2 separate regions of the Homo sapiens genome follow, and region 2 is linked to region 1. Evidence: fine-mapped expression QTL. A gene starts in region 1. The other region holds a variant in brackets. All regions are shown on one strand. Distances are from middle to middle. Region 1 holds the start of KIN (Kin17 DNA and RNA binding protein). Region 2 overlaps KIN (Kin17 DNA and RNA binding protein).

Evidence for each region. PIP is the estimated chance that this variant, and not a neighbour inherited with it, causes the effect.
Region 2: its variant is fine-mapped to the expression of KIN in subcutaneous fat (TwinsUK, PIP 0.95).

The regions. Positions count from the first base shown.
Region 1 is chr10:7,785,830-7,790,829 of GRCh38, reverse strand. It overlaps KIN (Kin17 DNA and RNA binding protein), which reads left to right and starts at 2,837. Exons shown (of 13, transcript NM_012311.4): 1 at 2,837-3,010. The coding sequence starts at 2,897. ATP5F1C (ATP synthase F1 subunit gamma) reads right to left here and starts at 2,653. Exons shown (of 10, transcript NM_001001973.3): 1 at 2,567-2,653. The coding sequence starts at 2,622. RefSeq lists enhancers at 1,569-2,112, 2,565-2,884.
Region 2 is chr10:7,755,546-7,760,545 of GRCh38, reverse strand. It overlaps KIN (Kin17 DNA and RNA binding protein), which reads left to right. Exons shown (of 13, transcript NM_012311.4): 12 at 556-656; 13 at 4,404-5,000. The coding sequence ends at 4,466. Among named protein-coding and RNA genes, the nearest start is that of KIN, 30 kb to the left of the region's middle. The variant A/T (reference allele first, on the strand shown) is at 3,020.

The DNA.
Region 1 (5,000 bases):
GCACTTTTATTGCATATATTTGACAGATGAGGAACTGGTGGGACAGACACTGAGTAACCTGCCCAAGGTCACAGAGCTGCTAAGTGGCAATCAGAATTCAATCCCTGCCGTCTGAATGCAGCCCTTCAGGGCTGGCTACAGAGTCTCTCTCTTCATACAGTACTACACTCTGCTGCCTCACATTTTTTACATTTATTAGTAAATATCTGCCCTCATGGTCTCAGATGACAATTTGTCTTTTCTCTCCTGAAATGCCATCTCCTTATCGGTATCTGTAGTTTATGACTACTGACACGTTATTAAAAAACAGTTCCATTTTAGAGACTACTGAACTCTAAGAAATAGAAATGTTTTTCCCAAATTTGAAGACAGTAAAATCCGGGATTCTTTCTCTCAAATTTTTAATTTCCATTTTCTTATATGCTGCTTTAAAAAAAAGGTTTAATTTTCAAAACGTTAGAGTATTTTGCCGATACCCTAACAACTATTAAAATAACCACTGTGAATTTAAGTAAGCCTAATGTTTTTATGTTAGCATGGTAGCCTCTCTGAAAACAAAAACTAAAATAACAAATTGTACTTTAAAAAACTTCCAGTAATCAAGACAGAAGCATGGAAATATGCCTCTTCATGGTTCGTTAAGACAAAGGTCTTTTCTTCCCCTTCCAAATTAATTCTGTGGAGTGGTTTTAATTTCTGAATTCAAAAGGCAATTATAATTCATGGAAAGAGAAATGGCAGAAGAGGAAGGAAAGACATTAAGCACCAGCAGTGAAGGAATACATGAAAAGAAGAAGACAGAATATGCTTTCATAGTGGAACACTGTTGATTGATGATTTATAAAACCAATATTCCAAAGGGATTAAGGTCAGGATTAGGACCTTTATATGCTGATTGTGGTTCCGATTTAAGCTCCTAACAGTAGTTGTCTTGAACTGAGAGCTCTTATTTAAAACAATCCTTCACTAAAAGAGCTTCAAATTATCTTACAGGTGCTTTAAAAAAAGATATTTCTAAAATTTTTTGTAAAATATTGTCTTTGTTTCAGAAACTATTTCCACTTTTTTAAAGATCAACTTAGAAACTAAGGTTGTAAAAATACTGACAGATAACATTAATGCGTGGCAAGAAGGTAAGGCCAGGAGAGCTGATGTTCGCAGAGCACCACTGCATGCCAGGCACTGTCCCAGGAAACTGACTGAGACCTTATCTATTTGCTCACCATCACATTTGGGCACTTTCCAAGTACCACCGGGTGGAGTGGAAGCACTCAGCTAATGTCTGCTGAGTGGTTAACAAGTGGGACAATCTATACAACTGAGAATTCAACTACAGTGACCTTTTAATTCCCATGAATGTTCTTTTTCCATATTAGAGAAAAAAAAATCTGACTTCCAAGGCCAAGCCACCAAAAATTTTATGTGGCTAATTCACATCAGATATCATTCTGAAAATCTCGTATATTACTATCAGTTATTTGCTTAATGAAAAACCTATTTATTTCAACTAATGCTTTATGGTCCCTTCATATAAATTAGGATACGAAAATCTAGTTTAGCACTGTAGCGCCTTAGAAATCCTCCACACTGTTAAGAGCAGGGAATTGCTACGACACAGCCTAGAATCCCCTTAGCAGCGTGTCTGGAATTCTTCCAGATTCCGTCAAGCTTCAAAACTGAACAGCACCACCCACAAACCAACTTTTACCTGCCCATTCCCGGGCCTTCTAATATGCACTTCCCCCAGCCCAGGTCCCCCTACCCGGAACTAATGTTTAAAATTCTCGAGGCTCGTGGCACCCTTTAGTTGCATGTCAGTTAACAAATGCCACTTAAAAGCCCACCGAACTCCTCCCCCAGGACCTGGGGGCAATTTCATGACCTTGCAGGGTTACGGTTTCAGCAAGTGGTTTCAAGGTAGTGCTAGGTGTCCTTCCCTTCCCCGCCCTCAGACAGATCTGTACGGTCCCTTCTGCACCAAAACCACCCTCAGAGGCATCTAGGATGTTCGCCTTTGCTGTTGCAGCACCCAGCAAAGCGTCTGCAACACGGGAGGTGCTCGACGGCCGCGCTCTCTGACTCGATCGAATCTTAAAGGGTCACTCTGTCCAGCACTACAGGGTTTCAAAGGGCGTCAAGGACAAAAAGCACGACTTAACCTTCCCCTGGGCTATTGCTCAGGCTCCCGTCACCTTGCAGGCCCTGAGACTGGGGGCCTGGCTTGCAGTGGAAGTGGAAGCTCAGGAAGTGCTGATTAGCTGAGGGAACTCAAGACCGCCCAGACGTCAATTTGGACTCAGGCCGCAGTCCCGAGGTCCCAGGTGGCCCTCCGACCTCAGGGAACCGGGCGGGACCTTGCTCCGCCGGAGCCCGGCCCTGCGCACACCTTGCCCGACCTCAGAGCCGCTTCCTGCAGCCCCCGCTACCCGGCGCCTCCGACGGGCCAGGGGCCCAGCTAGGCCCTGCGACCCCACATCTGCCCCCGCGCCCATCTCCTCCTCCCTGCCCCGTGCCCAAGCTCTTCCATCCCTTGCGGTCCTGCCGATCTTCCCGCAAGCTGCCATACCATTGCGGCTGCAAGGTCCAGGCCGACAGCCCAGCGACACCCGCGCGAGAGAACATGGTAGCCACAGCCCTGCTGAAGGTCGGTCAGGCAGGCCTCAGCGCGCATGCGCCGAAGCTCCCCAGCGCGCCCCTCCCACCTTGCTCTCTTCTTCAGTCTCGTTTCTTCGCGCTACGGCGAGGGGAGTCTCGCGACCGTTGCAACCCAGTCTTCCCAGGCCCCACCTCCTTCCGCCTCTCAGCTGGGATTTGTCCCGCCCACCGCCGCCAGCCCGGTTCCGTTTCCGGCTGGCTGAGTACTGGGGTCCAGAAAGTGATCGCTGCCGTGGTCGCCATGGGGAAGTCGGATTTTCTTACTCCCAAGGCTATCGCCAACAGGATCAAGTCCAAGGGGCTGCAGAAGCTACGCTGGTATTGCCAGATGTGCCAGAAGCAGTGCCGGGACGAGGTGAGTGGGCCCGGAGTGGCCCCGTCTTCCCAGGAGGGCCCCTGGCAATCCAGGATCAGGTCCTGGACGCGGGGCTGAGGGCGCGGGGCTGGGGCTCCCGGGGTCCGGGTCGTGAGGCTTCTGAGGTCTGCAGTGGGCGAGTCAACTACTCAGCGCACGAGAGCCGTCCCTCCCCGCAGCCCCCGGGCCCAGCGGGCAGCCTGTGTTCTGCGACCCCTCATTCCTCCCCAGTCCGATCCCCACCACCAAAGAAATGAAATCAGAAAAGGTTTTGCACCCCTCACAGGGGCGGGGATACTGCAATACTAGACGCCCGGGCAATGCCAGTAACAGTCATCAGCTCTTACTTGACTTGACTCTTAAGAGAAACAGGGTGGTTAGGATTCACTCCTCTTTTGGGATCAGGTGAAAAAGGAGAGCTAAGCTCTTCCACACTACTCATCTAGCAAGCATTTATTGAGCACCTACACTGTACCGGGCACAGAATAATATTGTGGTTAAAATTATGGATTTATCTGGTTTATGGATATATCAGACTGTCAAAATTTAAAGTCAAGCAGGGCCACTTACCAACCGTGTGGTCTTGGGCAAGTTATTTACTTATATTCCCCTTTACTTATCTGTAAAGAGGGAATAATAATTTCACCTACTTGTAGGATTGTCGCTGAGTTTTAAATGAGTGAAGTATATATAGAGTGGCTCAAGGAGTCTGGGCAGATCTCGAAAAGCCTTATATGGCTACACTATGGAATTTACACTTTTCCCCATTAAAGAGGTGGTTGATTGAATGCTGTGCAGGCTAGTGATGTGATCATATTTTTCTCCGGAGATTGGACTGGATTGGGTAAGGGTGGAAGAACACTGAGGCAATTGGAATAATCTAATCCAGTGTTTCTGCAAGTGAAGGAAGAGGTATTTTAGGTAGGACTCATACTAATATTGATACAGTTACTCTCTTTAGTTCTATTAAGGAATACCTGTATATGCATTATCTAATGTCTTAGTCTGCTTGGACTGCCATATAAAGTGCAGTAGACTGGGTGGTTTAAATGACAGAAATTTATTTCTCACAGTTCTGGAGGCTGGGAAGTTCAAGATCAAGGTGCTGGCATGGTCAGATTCTAGTGAGGGTCCTCTTCTTGGTTTGCGAAACTGCCTCTATCCTCACAAAGCAGATAGAGCAAGCTCTAATAGAAACTTCTCTTCCTCTTTTTTTTTTTGAGATACGGTCCCACCCTGTTCATCATGCAGGCTCTACCCTTGTGACCTCATCTAAATCCAGTCATCTCCAAAGGCCCACCTTTTAATTCCATTCCCTTGGGGGTTAGGGTTCAATATATGAACTTTGAGGGGACGCAGACATGCAGTCTGTAACACCCAGACTTAACACTTTAAGTAATTTTGCCGTATTTACTTTTTAAAAAATATTTTAAGGTAAATACCAATATCAGGATATTTCACCTTTAAATACTTAAATAGGCATCTCTAAAATTTCAGGATACTTTTCTATATAACCATAGTATATGTCATCAACATAACACAATTAATAGAAGTTCCTCTTTATCATCTAATACACATTCACACTTCCTCAGTTGTCCTCCAACTGCTCCTTGAAATCAAGATTCGATCAAAAGCAATAGACTGTTATAGGTTTGGTTATTAGGACCTCCGCTCCCCTCTCCAGTCTCCCTCATCATCAACATCCTGCAACGAGGTGTTATATTTGTTACCATGGATGAAACTACATTGACACATCAGTATCATCCAGAATCCATAGTTTACATTAGGGTTCACTCTTGGTGTTGTACATCCTATGGGTTTTGACAAATGCATAATGATACGTATTCACCATTATAAAATCTCACAAAATAGTTTAACTGCCCAAAAAGTCCTCTGTGCTCTGAGTTATTAGGACTTTTAGTTTTCTCCAAATTTAATTTTCTCTATATTCTGAATTTAGAATATAACCCATTTTCCCTCCACCCCTTTT
Region 2 (5,000 bases), 30 kb after region 1:
TACTGTACCAGTTTGTTTATCCAGTTATCTGTTGATAGACATTTGGCTTATTTACAGCTTTTGGCTGTTAAAAATAAAACTGCTGTGAACATATACGTACAAAGCTTTGTGTGGATATCTGGTTTCTTTTTTCTTGGGTAAATACATAGAATGGCTCAGTCACATGTTAGGTATAAGTTTAAATTTTTGTAAAACTGCCAAACCATCTTATGAATTTTGCAAAGAGACAAAGTAAGCTAAATTGTCTCTGATTACTTCTGGACTCTGAACATTTTCTCCAAGTACCTTATATTCTTTGCAGTCTAAAAGTAAAACATACATATTCCTTTAACAAATAATTGGGGGAAAAATGAGAAGTCTTATAATGTTCGAGTAGTGAAAGTATCCATACACCGCACTAAAATACTACACACTTCTTAAATGATTGAGAACTTCTAAGAAAAAGGGTTTTGTTTTTTATTATGTTTATTCAGTGTAGTACATTTTGCTGTAACAAGTTAGAAGAAAAGTGGAGATATTTCTTCACATTAATTTTTATATTCTTTTCCATCATAGGAAAAAGAATTCTAGTTTTAAATGGAGGCTACAGAGGAAATGAAGGTACCCTAGAATCCATCAATGAGAAGACTTTTTCAGCTACTATCGTCATTGAAACTGTAAGTTTGTTTACACAAAGACAGAAATTTCAAAATGCTTTAAAAATGTGCCATAGTTTTTTTTAATTGGATTGTTCTTTATTTTAGAATTTGAGTTTTTTGTTAGCCTTCTATCCTATTTGGAAATCTGTAAGCTTATTTTCTCCAGTGACTCTGCCATTGCTAAAGTATTTTATTTTCTGATTATAAAAGAAATGTGTACTCATGCATAAAACCCCAAAAAACATAATTTAATATAAATAATTATAAAAATTAATCATAGTCCCCCAGCCCAACAATAAACCCCATTAATATTTTGGTCTGTTCCTTTCCAATCTTGGTGTTTTATGAAAGTGTGTGTAATAGGTACAGTTTTATATCCTTTTTTCCCCTCATATCGAATATAAAACTCAATTTGGCATAGTAAAGTTAGTGGGGGAAGTAAAGTCATTGTCAAGAGGGAGGGAACCACAGAGGTCAACCACTTTTTAAAATGTCTCCCCTTTTTTCATAAAGGATTTAAGGTAGCAGAGATCAATACAGTAATTTAAAGAACTCTGACTTATAAATAAAGTTGGTTATTGACTTAGAACTGATATTTCACTCACAGGTCTGTGAGTGAGGTCTGAGATATCTTCAGAAAGAAAGTTTCCTTTTAGAACTCTGAACTACTGCACTGCATATCTTTGATGCTAAACAAAAGAATTTTTTATCTCCAGTACAGTCAGTTTTAGTATTTCTGGGGGAGCTTGGGAGTAATAGCTCACTTAGAGAGTTTAATGAAAGTTTAGACTCTTCAAAACATTGCACATAATTGCCAAATTTTATTTGTTCTCTTGGGGAGTTTATAGGCCCCCTAAGCCCATGGACCTGTTAGAGAATATGTGTCTAGGAAGGTTTTCTGGAAAAACCATTTAGGTCCTTATTTGAGAGAATTCTCATTTCAGTAAATCAAGCTTTTCTCCTTTTTTTTTTTCTTTCTGATCCTGACAATGCTAACCTAGAAGCTGTTACTTGCTAACTGTTACTAACGTAAACTAAGGGGAAGAAAGGGAAAAAGGACTCCTACTTGGCATTGAGGAACATGTCAGTCTGACTAAATTAGCAGATTGAGTTTTAACAAAAAACTCTATAAGATTTTCTCTGACTCTATCAGCATAAGGCAGTAGAAAATCCAGTATTTCCTTGACAACTTGCTTATCCTTCCCTTATTAATTTCTTTTTTTTTTTTTTTTGCATGGACCATGCATGAAACTTACCTTATTAATTTCATAGTGCTATCAAATGCAGATCCTGTTTCATGTTTTCATCTCAGGGAAACACAAAACAACTGATTACTGTTGAGGCTGTGTTGAGTTCCATCTCGATACCTTTGGTTCGCAGGTTGTGTCCATTCATCAAAAACTAATTTCTCACCTTCTGCACTGTAGACCCAGTTTCATCTTCTGTACTGAGGTAGAACTTAGCAGCAAATCCACATGAAAAGCCTTTCTGTTTGATTGCAAAGCAACATGTACTTCTTTTAGAAGAGGGAATCTACCAGCTTGGCATGGTGGCTCATGCCTGTAATTCCAGCACTTTGGGAGGCTGAGGCGGACGAATCACCTGAGGTCAGGAGTTCGAGACCAGCCCGGCCAACATGGAGAAACCCCATCTCCACTAAAAATACAAAAATTAGCTGGGCGCGGTGGCAAATGCCTGAAGTCCCAGCTCGGGAGACTGAGGCAGGAGAATCGCTTGAACCTGGGAGGCAGAGATTGCAGTGAGCCAAGATTGCGCCACTTACTCCGGCCTGGGTGACAGCGAGACTCCGTCTCAAAAAAAAAAAAAAAGGGAATCTGTCTCCTAATTTTTTTTTCTTCCTTTCTTCAGCCTGTCCTCATTAAAAAAAAAAAAAAAATCTCTGTATATGCTTGTGTCATCACTTGAGCTTTGCAAGTGGTTATTTTTATCATTTCTGGCACCTTAAGTTTTCATGTCGTTGATAATATTTGAAATTTATACATATATCAAGCAGATTTTTAACATCCAATAAATTGTTCCTAAATAGCTTCAGCTTTTTAGCTATTTGCCCTATAAGCCCAAATGTCTGGCTCCCTTCTTATTCTCCAGATTTATGGTACTTATCAGAAAAATGTAATTGACCATAGACCATTAAACATGATAATGAAAAATCTAACCTAGGTTATACTTTATCTGGGAACTTAATTCCTTTAAATATGATAATTATTTGTTGTGAAGGGAAGCAGTAAAAAAATGTTAAAATCTCAGTTCTAGGGTTAGAGTCATCATCATTGTCATCATCATTATTGTCATCATCATCATGTTATATTTTGCAAGGGAGAGGATTAACTGTCAAATTTAATTTTAATTTTATTTAATTT[A/T]ATTTTATTTTATTTTATTATTTATTTTCAAGACAGAGTCTCACTCTGTCGCCCAGGCTGGAGTGCAATGGCGCGATCTCAGCTCACTGCAACCTCTGCCTCCGGGTTCAAGAAATTCTTCTGCTCCAGCCTCCCAAGTAGCTGGGATTACAGGTGTGTGCCACCATGCCCAGCTAATTTTTATATTTTTAGTAGAGATAGGGTTTCACTATGTTGGTCAGGCTGGTCTCAAACTCCTGACCTCAGGTGATCCACCTGCCTCGGCCTCCCAAAGTGCTGGGATTACAGATGTGAGCACTGCGCCCGACCCAACTCTCAAATTTTAAACAAAAGATTAAATAATAATTAGAGTTGAAAATTATTGAGCTCTCACTCATATTAAGTTCCAGGTCTAGTCACTTTATATGAAATAACTCATTTATATTTCCCAACAACCCAATCATACAGACATTACCATTATTTCCACTGGGAGATAATAAGGCACAGAGAGGAAACTGAAGGACAGAGAGGTTAAATCAATTGTTGAAAGTGAGATTTGAACTTGGGGAGTGTAGGTTCACAGCCCATATTCTTAGCCTCTGTGTTCCCAGGTTATATCCGCTTTTGTGATAGAAAATATCTTTCATTAATTAAGTTTTCCTCTTTCCCTTTTTGTTCGATATGAAAGAAGAAAATAAAGTTAAAGTTGGACTCTTTTTATAATCTGGACCAGTGTAACTATCACAGCCAACCTAGACAAACATGTTTGAGTATCGTAATGCTTACAAAATGATATTTCCTATAAAAAAAAGAAAACCCCAAATGGACAATGGCACAAACATGGTAGAAGTTAACGTTTCACTCTAAAAACCCCAAATGGGTATTTTTGATCAGGGAACTCTTTCTAAGTGGCGATTTGTGAACCCAGGGTCCTTCCAGCTAGTGCCTCTACTGCCCTCAAGTGGCATCTCCAGTTGCCATGTCTGTGTGCACTGGGCAGGCAAAAGGAGCTTGGCAGATTGTGTGTCAGTTATAGCACGTCTGGACCGTCACTTCTGTTTGCTTTCATGGGCTGGAGCTCCATGCATGGCCACAGCTAACCACAAGGGAGCCAGGAAACTGGCTATTTATCCAGGAAGCAGAGGAGATACTGAACAGCTTGCAGGTCTCTGCCACAATGTCTATTGATAACGTATGTCAGATGTCACAGAAGAAAATATGGTAGTTCTTAATGAGAATGCCATAGATTATTCTTAAAATTCATAGATGTATACAAATGTTAACAATCTTAATGGTATTTTAGGGATGCGGAAAAGGCAAATTTGTATCCATAAGTATGGTGTCATTTTTTTGTCTTTTAGGAATATGTGTTTTTAACCTTATTTTAAATTATTTTAATTTGTAGGGCCCTTTAAAAGGACGCAGAGTTGAAGGAATTCAATATGAAGACATTTCTAAACTTGCCTGAGTTTGAAAATTTGTTAACAATACATTAAAATCTTAAAGCATCAAATTGGTGTTCGCCAAGGCATTATGAGACTCTACTGTGTTAGGGTATATTCTTTTGTATAAAACAAACAGGTTTTTGAAAATATTACTGTATAGTTGTTCAGCTAAACTTTGAGAAGAATTTAATTATGTCTCATGAGGTATCAAACTATGTAATTTTGTCCTTGTTATTTTTGTTTCCTTTGTAATTTACTTGATGAGTTTATATCTTCATTAAAGAATGTTATTATAAAGTGTTTTATCTATGACAATTTAGAATCATGTAATTGGAGGAAATCCTTCATACACTCTATATTTTCAGTAGTAGAGTAGTAAAGTTGAACTCTAAGTGTGACTAAATTTTAAATGTCAAACTATAAATATAGAAGCAGCTTTATTGTGGTAATAATTCATATACCATACAGTTCACTCATTTAAAATATACATACAATTCAGTGGTTTTTAGTATTTTTGCAGAATTGTGCAGCCATCACCACTGTCTGATTTTAAAACA